Linked DNA regions of Homo sapiens. The protein of the gene in region 2 interacts with the protein of the main gene of each other region in a pairwise test. Each region holds a gene or a part of one and is shown on either strand. Other genes may lie near its edges.

Region 1 (3,500 bases), about 110 Mb from region 2:
CAGGTATGTCTTTATCAGCAGCATGAAAACAGACTAATACACTACATAATAAAGACTAAAATTCAAAGTGTTCTGTTAAAGTCTACTTAGTGATTACAACTATTTTGTGCAACATTTTAACATTTAAGATGATAAAATCAAAACCAAGCACATATAATGAGTAGACAAGACTATTTCTATTACAACAAGTTAGGCTTAGCAAAAGTATATTCTTTAACACAAAAGGAGGAAACATGTCCCAGTTGGCTCAATAATGGTTTCTAAAGCAAGCTATCAAATTTCTCCACAGTAACTGTTACTACCATAAATTTTTTAGCTTCTCAAATTAGAATACAAGAACGCTTAAACCCCAGGATCAGCATAGTATAATTCTCTAAAGCAATAATTTTAACTTGCAGATTTAGAAGACAGAAAAATTTTGAATTAATTCTTATAATAAAAATCAGTTTGAAAGATAAGAGTTGACTATAGTAACTGTGAATTAATTTTTAAGTGAAAAACTAGAGCACTAAATGGTAAAGAACAAAAAGAAGACCATTAGTCATCTTTCCTTCATGAAAGTCTCTCGATCCGTATTTCTCTGAGACAGAAAAAGAAACGTAGCGATAGTTCAGAGACCATCTCTGACACAAGTAACTTGACCTCTTGGCAAGCTACTACTGATATTTCCAGTAACAGAAGCCTGACCATTTTGCACCCTACCACCTCCTACTGCTTTCCTTTATACCTACCCTCAATGCATCAGCCACAATTCTAAAGACTAGCTTACCCCTTGATAGAGAAAAATCAAGTTATACCACTGTTGAAAGTACCTTAGGCAAAACTTAAAAACCCAAGTGCCATGGCCAGGCGCAGTGGTTCACGCATATAATCCCAGCACTTTGGGAGGCCGAGGCGGGCGGATCACCTGAGGTTGGGAGTTTGAGACCAGCCTGACCAACATGGAGAAACTCCATCTCTACTAAAAATACAAAATTAGCCCAGTGTGGTGTCAAATGCGTGTAATCCCAGCTACTTGGGAGGCTGAGACAGGAGAATTGCTTGAACTCAGTAGGTGGCGGTTGCAGTGAGCCAAGATTACACCACCGCACTCATCTGGACAACAAGAGCGAAACTCCGTCTCAAAAAAAATAAACACCCAAGTGCCATTCACGTAAAATATAAAGGTTACCAAATCACATGCTATAAAACTAACTTTTAAGATTAAAAATCTGTGAAAACAGCAACTAAAAGTAACTAACTGCATTTTTAATAAAATGCAAACTTGGCTCCTTATCTTTACGATCTGTCAAACTCTTAACTCTTCCTTCAAGGCTCAACTTGAGCCTGCCTTTTCCCCAGATTAGGTCCCCTGTTATTCTCATTAAACACTGCATTTTTACTTCATAGCACTTTAACAAGATTTTATTTAAGAATTTTGTAACTTTTCTGTATACATTAGAATGTAGGCCTCCTATAAGGGCAGGAATTGTGTCTAAACAATGGTTATATTCCTGCAATTTAGGCACAAATTTTAACACTGCAGGCATTCACTTGTTACTGCTTCAATGAACAAATGCCTTTTCAGAGACCTGTGTTAATACAGATTTTTGTTTTGGGGTTTTTTGTTTTTTGTTTTTTTAATAGCAAAATCTCTGCTTAGGAAAAGGTGTAAAACGAAAATCTATCAGAAAATACTCCATTCAGGCCAGGTGCGGGGGCTCACGCCTGTAATCTCCGCACTTTGGGAGGCCGAGGTGGGTGAATCATGAGGTCAGGTGATTGAGACCATCCTGCCTAACAGGGTGAAACCCCGTCTCTACTAAAAATACAAAAAAATTAGCCAGGTGTGGTGGTGGGCGCCTGTAGTCCCAGCCACTTGGGAGGCTAAGGCAGGAGAATGGCGTCAACCCGGGAGGCAGAGCTTGCAGTGAGCCAAGTTCACACCACTGCACACCAGCCTGGGCAACAGAGTGAGACTCCATCTCAAAAAAAAAAAAAAAAAAAGAAAAAAGAAAAAAAGCACTCCATTCAAACTGACAATATTCAGATCCCGAATGAGCCAAAGTGTGTCACACAGAGACTAAGCTTGAACTGTAGAGCATTCCAGCAAATTAAAGTAATTGAGCAACAGTAAAGAAGATGACATTCACTGCAGATAAATTCAAGTGAGTGCATGCTGGCAAGACTTTACAACTTTACCCTACACCTACAGAAAGCTATGAAGTCATACAGAAACCACCCAAGAAAAACAAATGTGTTTTTCAGAGTATTTCAGTGATGTCAGAATTCACATTGAAGGAATAAACAGAATAACACTTTGTAGGAAATAAAATTTGAGCAGTCGACGTACATTTAATCTAGATTTAATATTACTGGAGCTATTCAATTGTTTAAGTAGCAAAACTAGTCCTAAAACAGAATCTAACTTTTCTATCCAAACCCCTATTCTATGCTTGCAGAAAACTAGGGAACAACTCTGAGAATGCACTTAGGGGCCCAAAAGCTCAACTTTCTTTAGAATGAGAATATTCATGACATTGTAAAGCATATCCTAAGCTTATATAAAATGGAAGCAGGCCAAAGCAGGTGGATCACTTGAGGCAAGGAGTTTGAGACCAGCCTGGCCAACATGGTGAAACCCTGTATCTACTAAAAATACAAAAATTAGCCAGGCATGGTGGCGCACACCTGTAATCCCTATAATCCCAGCTACTCGGGAAGCTGAGGCATGAAATGGCGCAACTGCACTCCAGCCAGGGCAACAGAGCAAGACTCTGTCTCAAAAAAAGGAAAAAAAAAAAATAGGAAGCAAAAATCGTGGTTGGTCTCAAAGTTACTGCTATCATATGTAAAATTTTTAATAATACTTTTTAGACAAAAATTTGTGGATAACTTGAAGTTCACAGAAGTCAAAATCTATTCTCAGACTACCCTTTTCTCACTGATTTATTGATTAAAAACTAATTTTAGGCAACAAATTCAAGAGAAACTAGAACTGAAAAATAACTTTGTAAGGTCAGGAACTTTCTGACTCTGGTTGCTGCCTGAGAAGTAAACTATATAGGTGGGCCAGGTGCAGTGGTTCACACCTGTAATTCCAGCACTTTGGGAGGCCAAGGTGGGAAGATCACTTGAAGCCAGGAGTTCAAGACCAACCTGGGCAACACCAAGAGACCCCCATTCTCTACAAAAAATTAAACATTAGTCAGGCACAGTGATACACGCCTATAATCCCAGCTACGCGGGGAGCTGAGGCAGGAGGATCACTTGAGCCCAAGAAGTTGAGGCTGCAGTGAGCCACGACTGTGCCACTGCACTCCAGCCTAGGCAACAGAGCAAGACCCTGCCTTTTTTAGAAAAAAAAAAGATACAGGTGGCTACCATGCTTACAGGCTAGTTCTTTCAGAAACCAATATGAAATTTTATGCAGCAGAAATTTTCCACAACCAGTCTAGGCTTCTGAAAGGAAGAAAAAGAACAAAAAATTAACCTATGTATATTTTCTAGGATGAACATCT
Region 2 (3,727 bases):
TTTTATTTTTTTTAAATTTATTTTTCTTATTATTTTTTGAGATGGAGTCTTGCTCTGTTGCCCAGGCTGGAGTGCAGTGGTGCGATCGTGGCTCACTGCAACCTTCGCCTCCCGGGTTCAAGTAATTCTCCTGCCTCAGCTTCCCTAGTAGCTGGGACTACAGGCACCACACCTGGCTAATTTTTGTATTTTTAGTAGAGACAGGGTTTCACCATATTAGCTAGGCTGGTCTCAAACTCCTTGTGATCTGCCTGCCTCAGCCTCCCAAACTGCTGGGATTATAGGCGTGAGCCACTGTGCCTGGCCTATTTTATTTTATTTTTTTGAGACAGAGTTTTGCTCTTGTTGCCCGGGCTGGAGTGCAGTGGCGCGATCTCGGCTCACTGCAACCTCCGGCTGCTGGGTGCAAGTGATTCTCCTGCCTCAGCCTCCCGAGTAGCTGAGGTTACAGGTGCCCACCACCACGCCTGGCTAATTTTTGTGTTTTTGGTAGAGATGGGATTTCACCACGTTGGCCAGACTGGTCTTGAACTCCCAACCTCAGGTGATCCGCCCACCTCAGCCTCCCAAAGTGCTGGGGATTACAGGCGTGAGCCACTGCACCGGGCCCCATATGAATGTATTCAAACTGGACTAAGCTATGAAGAGCCATTGTTGGAGTAGATGTGAACCTTGAGGGGCCTCAAAGCCCAAGGAAGAGGTAAGGTTCTGAGGCAGTTCAGACTTCTTTTAGTCCATCACGGATTGAAGACTCACTCTGCAGAGCCATACAGGGGGCCCAAAAGAGGTATCAGGGATAAGAAACCCAAGAAACAGTGATTGCAATAAGATCTTCCCTTGGTACCTAAACGGAAAAAAGAAAAAAATTAGCAAACAGACCTATAGAAATGTAATAGATTGTTGTTTTGGAGTAACCTTTGTCCATGGTACCATCTTATGTTCTAATAATAAAATAATAAAAATAATAACTCATGTAGTGAAGAATTGCTGTGCATCAGGCACTATGCTAAGCTCCAGTAGGAGGAAATACAGAGGAGCCAGGCGCAGTGGCTCACACCTGTAATCCCAGTTTTGGGAGGCTGAGGATCACGAGGTCAGGAGATCGAGACCATCCTGGCTAACACGGCGAAACCCCGTCTCTACTAAAAATACAAAAAAATTAGCCGGGCGTGGTGGTGGGTGCCTGTAGTCCCAGCTACTTGGGAGGCTGAGGCAGGAGAATGGTGTGAATCCAGGAGGTGGAGCTTACAGTGAGCCGAGATCGCACCATTGCACTCCAGCCTGGGCGACAGAGTGAGACTCCATCTCAAAAAAAAAAAAAGAAAAAGAAAAAGAGGGAGATACAGAGGAGATACCAGTGAACAATTTGATTTTATACCAGCAAAAATGTCCAGGGTCTGTTTAAGGGAGGGCTGGCTTTCCTTTATTGTTACTTATTTTTTTTTTTTTACAATGCAGCTATATTTAAAAGCGTTTAGAAGTAAATGCTTGTTTACAGACCTCATACACCCCAAGAGCATTAGAGTATTTTCTTTTTTCATTATTAGTCTCATCAGAGTCCCAGAAATTGGGAACACTCAGATATCCTCATGGCTGCATGTTTTTCAGAAATACTTTAATTAATTTCTTTATTGCTTCTTACTAAGTCTTTTACTTGGAGCTAATTAAGAATCTTTTGTCTCTTTTAGAAGTTTCTCCATTTCTCTTTATTACGAAGGCTCAACTTTTGTGTCTTATGTGCAGCATCTTGAAGTTAAGTCTTCATTATTTTGTACAAGTTTTTGGTATTTTATGGTTTAGTTTCTTTTTCTTTTTTTTTTTTTTGAGATGGAGTTTTGCCCTTGTTGCCCAGGCCGGAGTGCAGTGGCATGGTCTTGGCTCACTGCAACCTCCACCTCCCAGGTTCAAGCGATTCTCCTGTCTCAGCCTTCCGAGTAGCTGGGATTACAGGCACGTGTCACCACACCTGGCTAATTTTTTTTGTATTTTTAGTAGAGGCGGGGTTTCATCATGTTGGTCAGGCTGGTCTCAAACTACTGACCTCAGGTGATCCACCCACCTCGGCCTCCCAAAGTGCTGGGATTACAGGTATGAGCCACCTCGTTCGGCAGGTTTAGTTTCTTTCAGATTTTGAAAGAAAATCGTACTATGATCAACCAGAATTACGTGTCTGTTACCATTACTACACTATAACCACTTGTATTTTTAGTAGAGATGGGGTTTCACCGTGATAGCCAGGATGGTCTCGATCTCCTGACCTGGTGATCCGCCTGCCTCGGCCTCCCAAAATGCTGGGATTACAGGCATGAGCCACCTCTTTCGGCCGGTTTAGTTTCTTTCAGATTTTGAAAGAAAATCATACTATGATCAGCCAGAATTATGTGTCTTACCATTACTACACTATAGCCACTGTGTAGAAAAAGATGATTTTTTTTTTTTTGAGACGGAGTCTTGCTCTGTCGCCCAGGCTGGAGTGCAGTGGCACGATCTTGGCTCACTGCAAGCTCCACCTCCCAGATTCACACCATTCTCCTGCCTCAGCCTCCCGAGTAGCTGGGACTACAGGCGCCCAACACCACACCCGGCTAATTTTTTTGTATTTTTAGTAGAGACGGGGTTTCACCGTGATAGCCAGGATGGTCTCGATCTCCTGATCTGGTGATCTGCCTGCCTCGGAAAGTGCTGGGATTACAGGCGTGAGCCTTAGATTAATACCACTTGTGGAAAATTCAGAAGAGTGTTTAACAGAAGAAACTTAATTACTCTGTGGTTCCATCATCTAGGCATAACTACTGTTAGCATTCCTTTTTATCATTTTTTGAGGTGGAGTCTCACTCTTTCCCCAGGCTGAAGTGCAGTGGCGCAGTCTCAGCTCACTACAACCTCCGCCTCCCGGATTCAAGCAATTCTCCTGCCTCAGCCTCTAGAGTAGCTGGGATTACGGGTGGCTGCCACCATGCCCTGTTAGTTTTTGTATTTTTAGTGGAGATGGGGTTTCACCATGTTGGCCAGGCTGGTCTCACAATCTTGGCTGGATGTGATGGCTCACGCCTGTAATCCTAGCACTTTGGGAGACCGATGCTGTGGATCGCTTGAGGTCAGGAGTTTGAGTACATCCTGACCAACATGGCGAAATCCCGTCTCTACTAAAATACAAAAATTAGCTGGGCATGGTGGCGGGTGCCCGTAATCCCAGCCACTTTGGAGGCTGAGGCAGGAGAATTGCTTGAACCTAGGAGGCGGAGGTTTCAGTGAGCCAGGATCGTGCCACTACGCTCCAGCCTGGGCGACAGAGCAACACTGTGTCTCAATAAAAATAAAAATAAAAAAGAATTTAGGCTGGGTGTGGTTGCTCATGCCTGTAATCCCAGCACTTTGGAAGGTGGAAGCGAGTGGATTACCTGAGGTTAAGAGTTCGAGACCAGCCTGGCCAACATGGCAAAACCTCATCTCTACTAAAAATATAAAAATTAGCCGGATGTGGGCCGGGTGCGGTGGCTCATACCTGTAATCCCAGCACTTTGGGAGGCTGAGGCGGGTGGATCATGAGTTTAGGAGTTCAAGACCAGCTTGGCCAAGATGGTGAAACCCTGCCTCTACTAAAAATACAAAAATTAGCCAGGCACGGTGGCAGGTGCCTGTAATCCTAGCTACTCGGGAGGCTGAGGCAGGAGAATCGCTTGAACCTGGGGGGCACGGAGGTTGCAGTGAGCCAAGATTGTGCCTC
Region 3 (3,496 bases), on a different chromosome or scaffold from region 2:
TCCCAAATGCACCCTCTCCCCTTTTATCTATACTGAAACCCCTTCTTGTATCTCACTGAGCCCCTCTCCTGCCAGGAGGAAGCAGGTAACAACCCCTGGAGAGAAGGCAGACTTCCCCCATCCCTCATCTAGTTGGAGTACAGAGTAGAAATCAGGGTTGGCTTCCAGGAGGAGGTGGCATCAGACTGAGATTTGAAGAGGCAAATTCCTTCTTGGCAGGAATGGGACAGGGAGAATGATTCAGGCAGTGAATATAGCAGAGGAAGCAAAGAATCTAGGACAGGGGTGTTCCTGTCTCTCCCTGCCTCTCTCCATCCCCAACCAAGGCTGGCCTCTGTCTCCATTTGGAAACCAGGAAGCCATGCTAGCCCGCCCCACCTTCTAATTAATATTCTGAGGAGGAATATTCTAATATTCTAGGGAGGCCTGTGGCAAGCTCTCTGCCACTAGGCTGTAAATAGCTTCATGGCGAGGTACCCAGAGGAGGATTCCTGGGTCTTCCTGAAAGCGTGGCCCAAAGAGTTAGAGAAACCAATTTTGCATGTTTTTAGTGAAACCATGCCCCAAAGAAATGTTTGAGCTTGCAGAATGGCAGATCAAAAAAGAAACAACTTGCTGAAATGCCTTCCACTTATGAGGGTTTTTTGTTTGTTTCTTTGTTTGTTTGTTTGTTTGTTTTGAGATGAGTCTCGCTCTGTCATACAGGCTGGAGTGCAGTAGCATGATCTTGGCTCGCTGCAACCTCCACCTCCCGGGTTCAAGAGATTCTCCTGCCTCAGCCTCCCTAGTAGCTGGGACTACAGGCATGTGCCACCATGCCTGGCTAATTTTTTTTCTTTTATTTTCTTTTTCTTTTGAGACAGAGTCTCACTCCATCCCCCAGCCTGGAGTGCGGTGGCATGATCTTGGTTCACTTCAACCTCCACCTCCTGGGTTCAAGTGATTCTCCTGCCTCAGCCTCCCCAGTAGCTGGGACCACAGGCATGCGCCACCATGCCAGGCTAATTTTTGTATTTTTTGGTAGAGACGGGTTTCACCATGTTGGCCAGGCTGGTCTCGAACTCCTGACCTCAGGTGATCTCCCACCTCGGTCTCCCAAAGTGCTGGGATTACAGGTGTGAGCCACAGCCCCCGGCCCCAGAACTTTTCTAATAAAATTACTGCCTTAAAGCCAGCTGAGAAACAGACTTGTGCTGGATTCCTAGCTCCCAGTGGGTTGACATGCAACAAAAAGCTTGTCTTTTCTCAAAAACCAGGTGCCATCGTATTAGCTTCTAGCGCATCCGACAGAAATGTGTTAAGAGGGCCCTGCTCTGAGATGCTCATCTCCTCCTCCAAATTTGGCTCTTCAGAGAAGAGATGACAGCCTTTGGGCAGGCAGGGCTGGGCAGGGACCCATCCTCTTGGCTGCATTGTGATGTCTTAAGAAGACTGAAGGGGCACCGTGACGTCATAGATTGCGGGCCCACCCCTCCCCCTGTCTGCCTGCCCTCCCCACTGGCCGGGCCTCAACCTCTTCTCCCCGCAACCCCAACCCCAGAGGAAAAGCCCCCTCACCTGGCGTCCCGCAACCATGGATGCAAGTCGCCCCAAGTCCTCGGAATCCCAGTCCTCCCTGGAGGCCCCCAGGCCCGGCCCAAACCCCAGTCCCAACGTGGTGAACAAGCCCCTGCAGCGGGACTCCCCCGGCATGGTGGCCGACAGGCTGCCACCAAAGACCGGCGCGGTGGTTATTGACATGGGCACAGGCACCTGTAAGGTAGGTTTTGCTGGGCAGGCCAGCCCCACCTACACCGTGGCCACCATCCTGGGCTGCCAGCCCAAGAAACCCGCCACCTCGGGGCAGTCCGGGCTGCAGACGTTCATCGGCGAGGCAGCCCGCGTGCTCCCAGAGCTGACGCTGGTGCAACCCCTGCGCAGCGGCATCGTCGTGGACTGGGATGCCGCCGAGCTCATCTGGCGCCACCTGCTGGAGCACGACCTCCGAGTGGCCACCCACGACCACCCGCTGCTGTTCTCCGACCCACCCTTCAGCCCGGCCACCAACCGCGAGAAGCTAGTGGAGGTGGCCTTCGAGTCGCTGCGCTCCCCAGCCATGTACGTGGCATCGCAGTCGGTGCTGTCTGTCTACGCCCACGGTCGTGTCAGCGGGCTGGTGGTGGACACGGGACACGGGGTCACCTACACAGTGCCCGTCTTCCAGGGCTACAACCTGCTCCACGCCACGGAGCGTCTGGACCTGGCGGGCAACAACCTGACCGCCTTCCTGGCGGAGATGCTGCTCCAGGCCGGCCTGCCCCTGGGACAGCAGGACCTGGACCTAGTGGAGAACATTAAGCACCACTATTGCTACGTGGCCTCCGACTTCCAGAAGGAGCAGGCCCGGCCGGAGCAGGAGTACAAGCGGACTCTGAAGCTGCCCGATGGGCGCACGGTCACCCTGGGCAAGGAGCTGTTCCAGTGTCCGGAGCTGCTGTTCAACCCCCCAGAGGTCCCGGGGCTGTCACCCGTCGGCCTCTCCACCATGGCCAAGCAGAGTCTCCGCAAGTTGTCACTGGAGATGCGCGCGGACTTGGCCCAAAACGTGCTTCTCTGCGGTGGGTCCTCGCTCTTCACCGGCTTCGAGGGTCGCTTCCGGGCAGAGCTGCTGCGCGCTCTGCCAGCCGAGACCCACGTGGTGGTGGCTGCCCAGCCCACCAGGAATTTCTCCGTATGGATCGGGGGCTCCATCCTGGCCTCCCTGCGCGCCTTCCAGTCCTGCTGGGTCCTGCGGGAGCAGTACGAGGAACAGGGTCCCTATATCGTGTACCGCAAATGCTACTGACCAGGGCAGAGCTGGGGAGGGCGTGGGGGCAGTAAAGCCTCTGCTACAGCCGGCTCTGTCCTGTCCTTCCTCCAGGGCCTGCCCCATCCACTCCTGGGCACCTCGCCCCACAGGCTGACCTAACTCACCTCCTGTGATGCATGCCCTGAGACACCCCAATCCTGACCCCCTAAACCCACCTTCCCCATGAATAACTCCCAACAGACCACTAAGTTCTAATCCTGTCAACCCATCCTCCTGTGATCTGTGCCCCTCCCCAGGCACCCTTGGGTTGGGACACCCCCTCCCCAGACCACCTCTGACAAGTGCCCTTCCCATTTACACACTCCCAGAGATGGGGAGTTCACTACCTCAAGGCTATTGTTAGAAATATCACCTCCTCCTATGAGTCATAGATAAGCCTCCACCTGGCACCTGCCCCCAACCCCAAACATGAAGAACATGAAAGCCTCTGACCACCCACCCCATGCCCACACACACCCCTAGGGTCTGCCACATACCCAAGCCACATACCCAATTCCTTCCATTTCTAGTTTAAGTGATTCATGCATTGATCCCACATACATTCATTAATTACCCACTATGTGCCCAAGACATCCTCAAATACTGACTCCCTAATCTCACCCCATTATCTATTGCTTTTGATATAGCATCCCAAAATACCCCTGGGCT

What was found.
Region 1: the proteins of QRICH1 (region 2) and TRIM59 interact in a two-hybrid assay, tested with the Homo sapiens proteins (one large-scale study listed by BioGRID).
Region 3: the proteins of QRICH1 (region 2) and ACTL9 interact in a two-hybrid assay, tested with the Homo sapiens proteins (one large-scale study listed by BioGRID).

Annotation. Positions count from the first base shown.
Region 1 is NC_000003.12:160,439,787-160,443,286, forward strand, and holds part of TRIM59 (tripartite motif-containing protein 59), read right to left. Parts: intron 1-3,500. UniProt on the Homo sapiens protein: E3 ubiquitin ligase involved in different processes such as development and immune response. Serves as a negative regulator for innate immune signaling pathways by suppressing RLR-induced activation of IRF3/7 and NF-kappa-B via interaction with adapter ECSIT.
Region 2 is NC_000003.12:49,083,856-49,087,582, reverse strand, and holds part of QRICH1 (transcriptional regulator QRICH1), read left to right. Parts: intron 1-3,727. UniProt on the Homo sapiens protein: Transcriptional regulator that acts as a mediator of the integrated stress response (ISR) through transcriptional control of protein homeostasis under conditions of ER stress.
Region 3 is NC_000019.10:8,696,779-8,700,274, reverse strand, and holds ACTL9 (actin-like protein 9), read left to right. Parts: upstream 1-1,479; 5' UTR 1,480-1,573; coding exon 1,574-2,824; 3' UTR 2,825-2,875; downstream 2,876-3,496. UniProt on the Homo sapiens protein: Testis-specic protein that plays an important role in fusion of proacrosomal vesicles and perinuclear theca formation.